Regions from separate parts of the Homo sapiens genome. Here region 1 is linked to region 2. The links come from fine-mapping of genetic effects on gene expression. A gene starts in region 2. The other region holds a variant in brackets. All regions are shown on one strand. Distances are between the middles of the regions.

The links. PIP is the estimated chance that this variant, and not a neighbour inherited with it, causes the effect. A credible set is the group of variants that fine-mapping cannot tell apart.
Region 1: its variant is the best candidate, but not a certain one, in a credible set for the expression of TRPV3 in testis (GTEx, PIP 0.74).

Annotation. Positions count from the first base shown.
Region 1 is chr17:3,523,442-3,528,814 of GRCh38, forward strand. TRPV3 (transient receptor potential cation channel subfamily V member 3) reads right to left here. Exons shown (of 18, transcript NM_145068.4): 11 at 4,584-4,685; 12 at 3,413-3,486; 13 at 757-922. Among named protein-coding and RNA genes, the nearest start is that of TRPV3, 32 kb to the right of the region's middle. RefSeq lists enhancers at 774-1,273, 4,164-5,084. The variant A/G (reference allele first, on the strand shown) is at 3,016.
Region 2 is chr17:3,555,065-3,560,437 of GRCh38, forward strand. TRPV3 (transient receptor potential cation channel subfamily V member 3) reads right to left here and starts at 2,748. Exons shown (of 18, transcript NM_145068.4): 1 at 2,612-2,748. RefSeq lists a silencer at 1,707-1,766 and enhancers at 2,948-3,764, 3,407-3,466, 3,547-3,596, 3,627-3,856, 3,765-4,579 and 2 more.

The DNA.
Region 1 (5,373 bases), 32 kb before region 2:
GGCGCGGTGGTTCATGCCTGTAATCCCAGCACTTTGGGAGGCCGAGGCAGGTGGATCACCTGAGGTCAGGAGTTCAAGACAATCCTGGCCAACATGCTGAAACCCTGTCTCTACTAAAAATACAAAAATTAGCCAACATGGTGGTGCGTGCCTGTGATCCCAGCTACTCTGGAGGCTGAGGCAGGAGAACTGCTTGAACCCAGGAGGCAGAGGTTGCAGGGAGCCGAGATCGCACCACTTTACTCTGGCCTGGGCAGCAGAGCAAGACTTGGTCTCCAAAAAAAAAAAAAAAAAGCAACAAATTATTCTGAGACTCAACTGGCTATGTGGAATTTACAATAAACTGCATGGTATATTTTCATTATTTGCAAATTGTGTGATACACATCGTTTATATAGTAAAATGTATGATAAGTCTTTTGTGTATATATATGGAATATACATATTCCACCTACACACACACACATACACACACACACACACAGAACAGTCGTTAAATGTTTACCAGCACGCCACTGCCCAGGGGTGAGAACATTCCTCCACAAACTGTACCCCTCCCCAGCACCCCACAAGCCTGGGGGATTTAAGGTCTTGACACTTAAAGCCTGGCCGAAAGCAAAGGGAGTGCATGGCATTTGGGAGAAAGAGCAGTGACCTGCCCCTTGGTAAACCCCTCTTCCTCTCCAGATCTCAGTTTCCCCATCTGAAAAATGGCCATCCTCCGAGGGCCCTCCCGCCGGCGCAGCTCTCAACGCACCTTCTGGATCATGACGCTGTACATGCCCATGGACTGGAAACCCCGCGTATAGTAGAGCATGTTCGCCCAGCCCAGGGCCATGGCCAGCACGAGGCAGGCGAGGTACTCTTTGTAGGCAAACAAGTACAAGAAGACAGACAGTATCACAAGCACAGCTTGGATAAAACTGTTCAGGAGACACAGGAGACACGGGCCTTACTTACTTCTCAGCATCAGGGCAAAGATATGCAAATCCCCCAAACCTCCCTTAAACCCCCTGAACAGTCACCCCGGTGACGGATGCTGAAGAGACCAGAATCACGCTGCCTCAGATCCATTTGGCTACCATAGAATTCAGCCTGTAGAGACATCACCAGATGCCACTCACAGCCTGTGGTAAGCTGATTGCAGCTGGTGGGGACTTTAAAAAAAGAAAAAACACACATCCACAGGGCCGCAGAAGATTCTAGGGTACTGCCCGGGAGGCCATATATTTTTTAAATTACCCACACGGGCCTGGTGTAGTGGCTTTCGCCTGTAATCCCAACACTTTGGGGGGCTGAGATAGGAGAAACGCTTCAGGCCAGGAGTTCAGGACCAGCCTGAGTGACATAGTGAGACCTTGTCTCTACAAAAAAAAAAAAAAAAAGAAAAGAAAAATAATCTAAATCACCCACATAATTTCTGACTCCTGCATCGATTTGAGAACTACTGGAGTAGACCAAAGATGTGGTAAATGATTGTATTTTTAACCAAAATGACAAAAACTGCCAATATCTATACTTAAAAGCCAATCATAGCAAAAGTCCCCCAAACCCTACTTTTTAAATCGTGGTGTTTTTTGGGGGGGTCAGGGGGGCAGAGACAGGGTCTTGCTCTGTCACCTAGGCTGGAGTACAGTGGCATGAACTCTGCTCACTGCAACCTCCGCCTCCCAGGCTCAAGTGATTCTCCTGCCTCAGCCTCCCTAGTAGCTGGGATTACAGGCACCCGCCACCACACCAGGCTCATTTTTGTATTTTTAGTAGAGATGGGGTTTCACCATGTTGGCCAGGCTGGTCTCGAACTTCTGACCTCAGGTGATCCACCCACCTCGGCCTCCCAAAGTGCTGGGATTACAGGCGTGAGCCAACGCGCCCAGCATTAAATCTTTTTAAAGTATGATGTATGCTAAGTGAAATAAGATAGGTGACTCCACTATATGACTGTACCTAAAATAGTCCAATTCACAGAGAAAGATGGAAGAATGGTGGTTACAGGGGGCCGGGAAAGGAGAGGAATAGGGGCTGTTGTTTAAGGGGTATGGAGTTTGAGTTTTACAGGACGAAAACAGTTCTAAAGACTGATTGCCCAACAACATGAATGTACTTCACAGTATTGATTTCTACGCTTAAAAAATGGGTGCAATGCTAACTTTTATGCTATGTGTATTTTACCACAATTAATTTTTTTTTTTTTTTTGAGATGTAGTCTCACTCTGTCGCCCAGGCTGGAGTACAGTGGCATGATCTCGGCTCACTGCAGCCTCCGCCTCCCTGGTTCAAGCAATTCTCCTGCCTCAGCCTCCAGAGTAGCTGGGATTACAGGTGCATGCCACCACACACAAGGCTAATTTTTGTATTTTTTGTAGAGAGAGGGGATTTCACCAGACTGGTCTCAAACTCCTGACCTCAGATGATAGGCCCACCTTGGCCCACCAAAGTGCTGGGATTACAAGCATGACCCATCGTGCCCGGCCCACAGTTAAAATGTTTTTAAGTATAATATATCGCAAACATACAAAATCAATATCTACTCCTACACAGTCACATGCAGACATCTGCATAACATCCATTATGCAGACATCTGGATAAAAACACTGTCTTATAACATCAGACAGTTTCCAAAATTATAAAATAGCTAACCAAAGTCACAACACAGGCACGATTGTAAGAAAAACCATCTAATTCATCAACTGCATTTTAGACTGAAATGAAGAATGTCTCCCTCCACACTAACAAAACAAATAAGAAGCAGAAGAGGCCGGCGCAGGAGCTCACACCTGGAATCCCAGCACTCTGCAAGGCTGAGGTGGGCAGATCACTTGAGGTCAGGAGTTCAAGACCAGCCTGACCAACATGGCGAAACCCTGTCTCTACTAAAAATACAAAAAGGAGCCAGGTGTGATGGTGCACGTCTGTAATCCCAGCTACTCAGGAGGCTGAGGCAGGAGAATCGCTTGAACCTGGGAGGTGGAGGTTGCAGTGAGCCGAGGTCACGCCACTGCACTCCAGCCTGGGC[A/G]ACAAGAGTAAAACTCCACCTCAACTAAAAAAAAAAAACAACAACGTAAACAGGACTGCTAAGCCTGTTGCCGCCTTCTCCACTCCATGCTGCCTTCCACGTGGGGCTCTGTGATGGGTAGAGTTGGCCATCACCACCATCTCAGCCTCCCAGAGTGCTGGAATTACAGGCGTGAGCCACTGGGCCCCACAGCCCTGAAGTTTTCTGACCTTCTCCATGGGCATTTACGTGTCTCCTACTAGGAGGAAGAGAGGAGACCCCTGGCGTGTAACCATGGCAGAGTGACTGGGACACCGTGGCACAGTAGGATATTTGTTCAAGAGGCGGACACGGCAGCCACCATACAGGACGTCAACCCTGCCTGTGAGGCGATAACCAAGGGGCCAGACCTACTTACAAGACAAAGTGGAACCAGGCATCCGAGAGGATGGACTGCAGATCCGAGGGTCTCAGCAGGAAGATGGCAATGCCCTAAGGCCAGGAAGGAAAGAAACAGTGCACCCTCTTCATGGCCCTCAGCAGGGGAGCTGAGCAGAGGGTGCTTCCCCAGGACCAAGACTCAGTGAGGGTTGAATGCACAAAGGCCCAGCTAGAGTCCAGGTGGCGGATCTGAAAGGGGACCTGTGCCTGGGGGGCGTAGGCACCTCCACGGTGAAGGTGAACGCTCCCTCAAATCTTCTCACCTCCCTCACTCCTTACCCCATCCTCACCCCAGAACCTGCAAAGCGGTACTACCACTACAGCCGCCTTCCATTCCCCACATCCAGCCTAGCGTTCCAGCCTCCGAGCCTTTGCTCATGCTGTTCCCCATATCCACCCTGTAATGACCTTGTCCTCATCGTCCTCGTGCCCAATCCTACCCCACCAGAGTAAGTGCCATCTCTGCCTTCAAGCATCTCTACCATTCCCTGTCCCCAGATAAAAGTCACCTCCCTTCCTCTGAACACTGATCTGAACCCAGCTTAGGGTCTTTTTCGGTCTATCATAAAGTCTTGATATTTATGCCTATGCTATGTCCCCAACCAGGCTGTGAATTCAAAGAGGGCAAACTCGTCCCAACCCTGTCACCTCCTCCAGGGCCACACATATATAGAAGGTGCTCAGATTATATGTGTTGATTCATTGGATGGATGGAAGGATGGATGGATGGATGGATGGATGGACGGATGGACAGATGGAGAGATGGAAAGATGGTTGGATAAAGGATAGAAGGATGGTCGGTAAGGATGAGTGGACATGTGAATGGATGAATGAGTGGCTGGGTCCATGAAAGAGGGCAGGTGATCGGATGGGTGGATGGGGGTGGAAGAGGACAAGGGACACTGAGTGGCTGGGAAGGTAGATAAATGGCGGATAGTTGGGCAGATGGATAGAGAAGTAGATGGATGAAGTAGGTAGGATAGGCCAGCCTTATCCATTTTTTCCCATGTTATAACTCAGAAAGGTAAGGCTTGGGAAGGAAACGCCTCCCCAGAACCCCCCAGCAGTAATGGCAGAGCAGAGAGGGATGGAGGCTGTCACCTGCCTGCCTCGCGGGGCGGTCTGGAAGGGCCGGGTGGCCCACTTACCTCTTTCACAGAGATGCACATGGCCCAGATGAGCACAAACATCCTCCCTAGGAGCTGCAGCCACCCCATCTTGTGCGTCAGGGCCAAGGGGTGCGGGATGGCCTGCAGGGAAAGAAGAGGGGTGGTCAGTATAGGAAGCAAGGAGGACAGGGCTGGCACCAACTCTAGAGGGACCAAAACCCAGGTGAAACACTCAAGCCGGGCCAGAGACCAGCATGAAACCTGATCTCTGTACAGGGCAAGAGAAGGAAGAGCAGCTCCCTGACCCCAACTCTCCTCACCCTTGATGGAAACCCAGAACTCTACAACGAAGAATATCATCCAATCCGTGCTAACAACCCTCACACTCCATTGCAATAGCCTTTCCGGAACCCATCCATATCCAGGCACTCAACATGGCCTCACAGCACCGTTAAATAAAGCCGAGGCTCTGTGCCCCACGTGACGCATGGGAAACCGAAGCCCAGCAGGCAGGGAGAGCTTATCCTCCTCCCGTTTCCTGCAGCCCTCACAGCAGAAACACCCAGCTAGTTCTATATTTACAGACAGAGACCCTGTGCAGGGCCTGAGTCTCCGAATTCTCCAACTTTCCTCCCAGCAAGGGTCTGCCCTTGGGACTCGGCACCTGGGGCTTAGCCCAGGCTAAGCACTGAAGACATATTCAGTTCCCTGGGAAGCGTGAAGGACAACTGGGGGACCCCGCCCAATCTCCTGGTCTCTCTGGGCCTCAGTTTTCCCACCTGCACGTGGGGCAGCTCCAAGCCCCTCCAGCTCTGACGGCCCCATTTTC
Region 2 (5,373 bases):
TATGGTCCTAGGAGAGCCCAGCAGGGTGTCCCAGTAGAGACCACCATGCCCCTGTCCTCTCTCATGACACCCTCCCCAGCCAACCAGTCCCCAGGTGGACCCCTGAACTAGTGGAGAGTCCAGCAGGGTGTCCCGGTAGAGACCACCATGCCCCTGTCCTCTCTCATGACACCCTCTCCAGCTGACCAGTCCCAGGCGGACTCCTAAGCACTAGCTCTGCTTTCCTGAGGTCCCTCTCCGATTTTGTGATGAGCAGCTCTCCAAGAGTTTTGACCTCCACAGAGCAAGATTATCACCTCCTTTGCTCTAGATGTTATGCTCCTAGTAACACAGCCTTAAGCTCCTCAGGTGTTTTGGATTCCTCAGTGTCCAGGTGGTCTCTGCAGCCAACACACCGATCATCTCCCCCGCCCACCCAAAGCTGTGTGTAACCAGCTTATGGCTGCCTGTCCATTAGATTCCCCTCTCACCTGCAGGGAGCAGCTGAGTCCCCTTGCCCCAGGCAGAGGAGGCCGACCCCCCAGTCCAGACCTGCTTTACTGATGCTCAATGTGGGCTGGGCACCGTGCTGAGCTCCGAGGGGTGTGGGGATTGGGGAAGGGGGACTGATACATCTTCCAACAAGACCAGGATAGACCGTACAGGCTGCTGTGTGGAGGAAGGACAAGCCGGGCAGAGGACAGAGCCTGGGAGGGTCAGGAGTGGCAGGAGTGGGGGGAGCTGCTGTGGCCAGAGAACCTGGGGAGCTCATGGGGACCCTGCCAGCGAAAGCCATGCGGGCAGGCTGGGCCCTGTATAGTCCTCGAACACCGCATAAGAGCTGTGGCTTCAGGCAGGCACAGTGGCTCACACCTGTAATCCCAGCACTTTGGGAGGCCAAGGTGGGCAGATTGCCTGAGCTCAGGAGTTCAAGACCAGCCTGGGCAACATGGTGAAACCCCGTCTCTACTAAAATACAAAAAATTAGCCGGGCATGGTGGTACATGCCTGTAGTCCCAGCTAGTCGGGAGGCTGAGGCAGGAGAATCACTTGAATCCAGGAGGCAGAGGTTGGATTGAGCCGAGATTGTGCCACTGCACTCCAGCCTGGGCGACAGAGCGAGACTCCGTCTCAAAAAAAATGAAAAAAAAAAAAAATAAAGTTTTTATTAAACATAAAAAAGGAGCTATGGCTGACCCCTGGGGGCAGCTGGGAGTTGGGTGCAGAGGCTCTGGGTTACATAGGAGAGCGCGGGCTGCGTTGGGGGGTGGGGGAGACCAGAAGCCAGGGGCCAGGAGGAGGCTGCTGCAGGGGCCATAGGGACGGGGAAGGGGGCCAGCTGGCCACAGAGGGATGACATGGGCGGGGAAAGGGCTGTGTGGACAGGTGGTGACTGTGTGGTCAGGGGGTGCCACTCTCAGCTTGAATCATCCTCAGGGGACTCACCTGGCGACACATAGGTGGGGGCAGGAAGACGGATTTCTGTAAGAAGAACCCAGCTGGGTGGGGTGGAGCTGGGGCCACTGGTGATCCTACCCCAATAGGAAAGCTTCCTGGAGGAAGTTTCCGGAGCCAGGTGTCATCAGGCTGGAGAGAGTCCCCCGCCCTCCAACTCAAAGGGAGCAGGCTCAGGATGGAGGAGGCATCGGCGAGGGAGAGCTTTGGCCCTGGAGCGTAGGCAACCTTGAGGCCAGGCAGGTGGAGTAGCCCACAGAGAGGGACTCCTGGGCACCCGGCCCTCCCGTGTCCAGTCACGGCCTGATGAGGATGGGCAGCCTCTATGGCTTTCCCCATCCCCACGTGGCCTTTGGTGGACTAAAAGGCTGGGATGCACCGAGCGTGAAGGAGACAGAAGAAGGGCACGTCTCTTGCCCCTCCCAGGGCCTCTGGTTTCCTTTCTGAGAAGTGGGCTGAATGGTCCCCAAGGACTCTGTGGCCCTGAGAGCTGGTTGCTCTCTCTCTTCTCTGGGCCCGAGAATGTGGCCTGCCCTGGGCCTCTGGGGCAGGAGAGGCTCAGGGAACTCTGGACTAGGGCCGCAGCAGCTATCATTAGCTCCCTGAGTCACCCCGTAAACCCCACGTTCTCACCTGCTGGACTCTCTTGTTGCCCTGGCCCTCCCTCTCTCTCCCAATCCCTGACACTGATTGAAATGGCCTTTCCCGGGCGACAGACCAGGCCGCGGAGCCACAGCTGCTGACTCAGCACCTGTGAGATGCCTGGGCCCCGTCTGTCTCCCACGGTGGGGCCACCTCCTCCCATCCTGAACTCCCATCACAATCCTGCCCCAGAAAGCCACCTCCCTGGGTCAGCCTCGGGAGGCAGGAGCCTCTCCTCTGCCCCCAGCAGTGGTGAGATTGAGATGTCCCTCCCCAGGATTCCCAAACCTCAGGGGAATGTTCCTGAGTCTGTAAGGACCTATATTCTCACACATCCCTACAGCCAAGAGTGCAGCCAAGAGTGCCTCCCTACAGCCAAGAGTGGGCCCCTGGCTGGGGCCCAAGCTCCTTCCAACCCTCCTCCCAAGGCCTATTGGCCAAGGGCAGACATGGCCCAGAGGACCTCTGAGGGCCACGCTCTGGGCTCCCCAGGGGCCTTGGAGATCACCAGCTGCCTTGTGCACAGAAGACTCACCTGGTGAGGTTCTGGGTGGTCGTGGCAACCCTTGCCCTGAGATCACCGCATGTCTGGGGCCCAAGGCCCCCGGGTGGGACTGTGGCTGAGGCGGCGGGAAGCTCTCATTGCAGGCAGAGGGATGGCTGGAATGAGGCGTCAGAGGCAGAACTGGCTGAGCCACCTGCCCTCGGCGCCAGGCAGGCCACGCCCACCAGCCACAGCTGCAGCACCCGCCCACCCACGTGGCCCGTGTGAGTCACCCCCACACCCACACAGCAGCCTCATCCCCACCGGAGAAAAGGCAGGGGAGGCCGCAGGTGCCAAGATCGAAGTTGTGGGTCCAACTCCTCCCTCTCTGGCATTCCATGCTGGGCAGGGACTGCCCATCTCAGGCCTATTTTTCCAACTAGGAAATGGGAATGATAACATCTACTTTCCAAGGGAGCCGTGAAGAGCCAAAGAGATCACAGAGGTGGGAGGGCCTAGTGAAGAGTCAAGCGCTCTGCTCTGTCCCCTGGGAGGGAAGACCGCAGCCCAGGCCTAGCCTGGTTGACCTCAGGGTGGCCAGCCCCAAGACTCGGCACTTGTTCTCAAAAGTCGGTTCCTGGGATCAGGTCTCTCGGGGACGGAAGTCCCCATTTAATGCTGTCCACCAGCAGTCACGCATCATGGCCCTTAGTGTCAGCCTCACCCCTTCCTGGCTGAATGACCTTAGCAGGTCATTTCTCCGAGCCTCAGTCTCCTCATCTGTGAAACGTGCTTCATAAACCCACTTTGCAAGGTTATCGTGGGGCTTCAACAAGTACAAGTAGAAAGGGCCAGAACAAGGCCCAGGGCACGGCAAGAACTCAATAAACAATGTCAGCTCTTAGCTATGATTGCTTTTGTCATCTCAATGTATTCTCCCAGCAACTGCCCAGGTTGCCCTTCTCCAAGGCCAGGGCGTCATAGAAGGAATCGGTGCCCTCTCTCCTGGCCCAGGCTGCAGCTGTGAAGTGGGTGGAGTGAGTCAGGATGGCCGTGTGTGTCTCGCGTCACTCAGGAACTGCACACCTGCTCCCCGGGGCGAGATGTGGACAAGACACAGCTGGGACAGAGCAGGAAGTCTCTGCTGACGCGGCCGCAGCTGGCGCCTGATGGGCAGGGAAATCCCCAGCTGTGAGCCTCTCAATCCCTCATCATCACAACCTGCCTGGCCTGGGGAGGAGGCAGGAGGCAGGTGAGGCTTCTAGGCCACGGGAGAGCAGGACCTATGGCCGGTAAGGGGCAGACCAGACTTGAGGGTGTGGGTGAAGCAGGAGACCGCTTCTGCCGTTGAAGTCAGGGGGTCCTGAAGTTCCCACTCACAATCTGAAATCTCATGACTGTGCCTGAAACTCGACCGGAAAAGCCCGATCTGGGGTTGAGCACGGCCTCCGGCCACTAGCTTACTCACCCTCTCCCGACCCAGCCCCGCGCCCTCCCTGTTTGCCTCTGGCGGCTCAGACGCCTGGGGAGGAAGCTGCTGCCAAATGTCAGTGCTTCCATTTTGCTCGTGTTCATAACTTTTCTCAGAGGGCAGGTGGGAGCTGGTGAAAAAGGCCCCTGTCTCCCACCCAGAGGTGTGCCCTGTGCCCAGCAAGGAAGAAGGGGACCCCCGCTCTGCTATGAGAGGCAGCAGGAGCCAGGTCACCCAGTGGAGTCACAGTCACTACTTAGGAAGCCCGAGCCCATCCTAATCCCACCCCAAACACACAGAAGCAGCAGCTTCAGCCCCTTAGATGGTCTATATTCAACCCCATTTAACCCAGCACATGGTGAGAGCCCACGGGAGAGGCCGTGGCAAGGGCGCAGGTGGACAACGAGGGATTCAGAACTGGAGAAGGCCGTGTCCACCCTCGTGGGCCACAGGGGACACAGGCTCAGGCAGGAACCATGACCCACCATGTGGGTCATCAGGACAAAATGGGCTGAGACCCCCAAGGCGGGAGGAAGTCCCTGTGATGGGGTGTAGGGGATGAGTTCGGGAAAGAGGGAGCATCTGCCTGGACTTGGAAGGAGGGAAGAGGCCACAACATGGTGAAACCCCGTCTCTACTAAAAATACAAAATTAGCGGGGTGAGGTGCTGCACACTGTAGTCCCAGCTATTCGGGAGGCTGAGGCAGGAGAATTGCTTGAACCTAGGAGGCAGAGGTTGCAGTGAGCCGAGACTGCACCACTGTACAGCCTGGGCAACAGAGCGAGACTCCGTTTCCAAAAAAAAAAAAAAAAAAGAAAGAAAGAAAAAAGAAAAAGAATGGAAAAGTGAAAAGGAATATGATCAGAACAAAAATATAACATGCTATAGTGTAAATGCATACAACACATTGGTCAATGCTATTAAGTTTAAATTAAACACACACACACACACAGAGAGAAACAGAAAAAAAGATAAAAGATAAAATGACCACTTCATACTCTTTAGAATGGCCCAAATCCAAAATGTTGACAGCACCAGCAAATGCTGGTGAGGACATGGAGCAACAGGAACTCTCGGCCATCACTGGTGGGAATGTAAAACGGTGCAGCCACTTTGAAAGACACTTTGGTGGTTTCTTACAAAACTAAACATACTCTTACCATTCAATCCAGCAATCACACTCTTTGGTGTTTATTCAAAGAAGCTGAAAACTTATGCCCACACAAAAATTGCCCATAGATATTTATAGCAACTTTACTTATAATTGCCAAAACTTGGAAGCAACCAAAATGTCCTTCAGTAGGTGAATGGATAAAGAGTGGTACATCCGGCCAGGCGTGG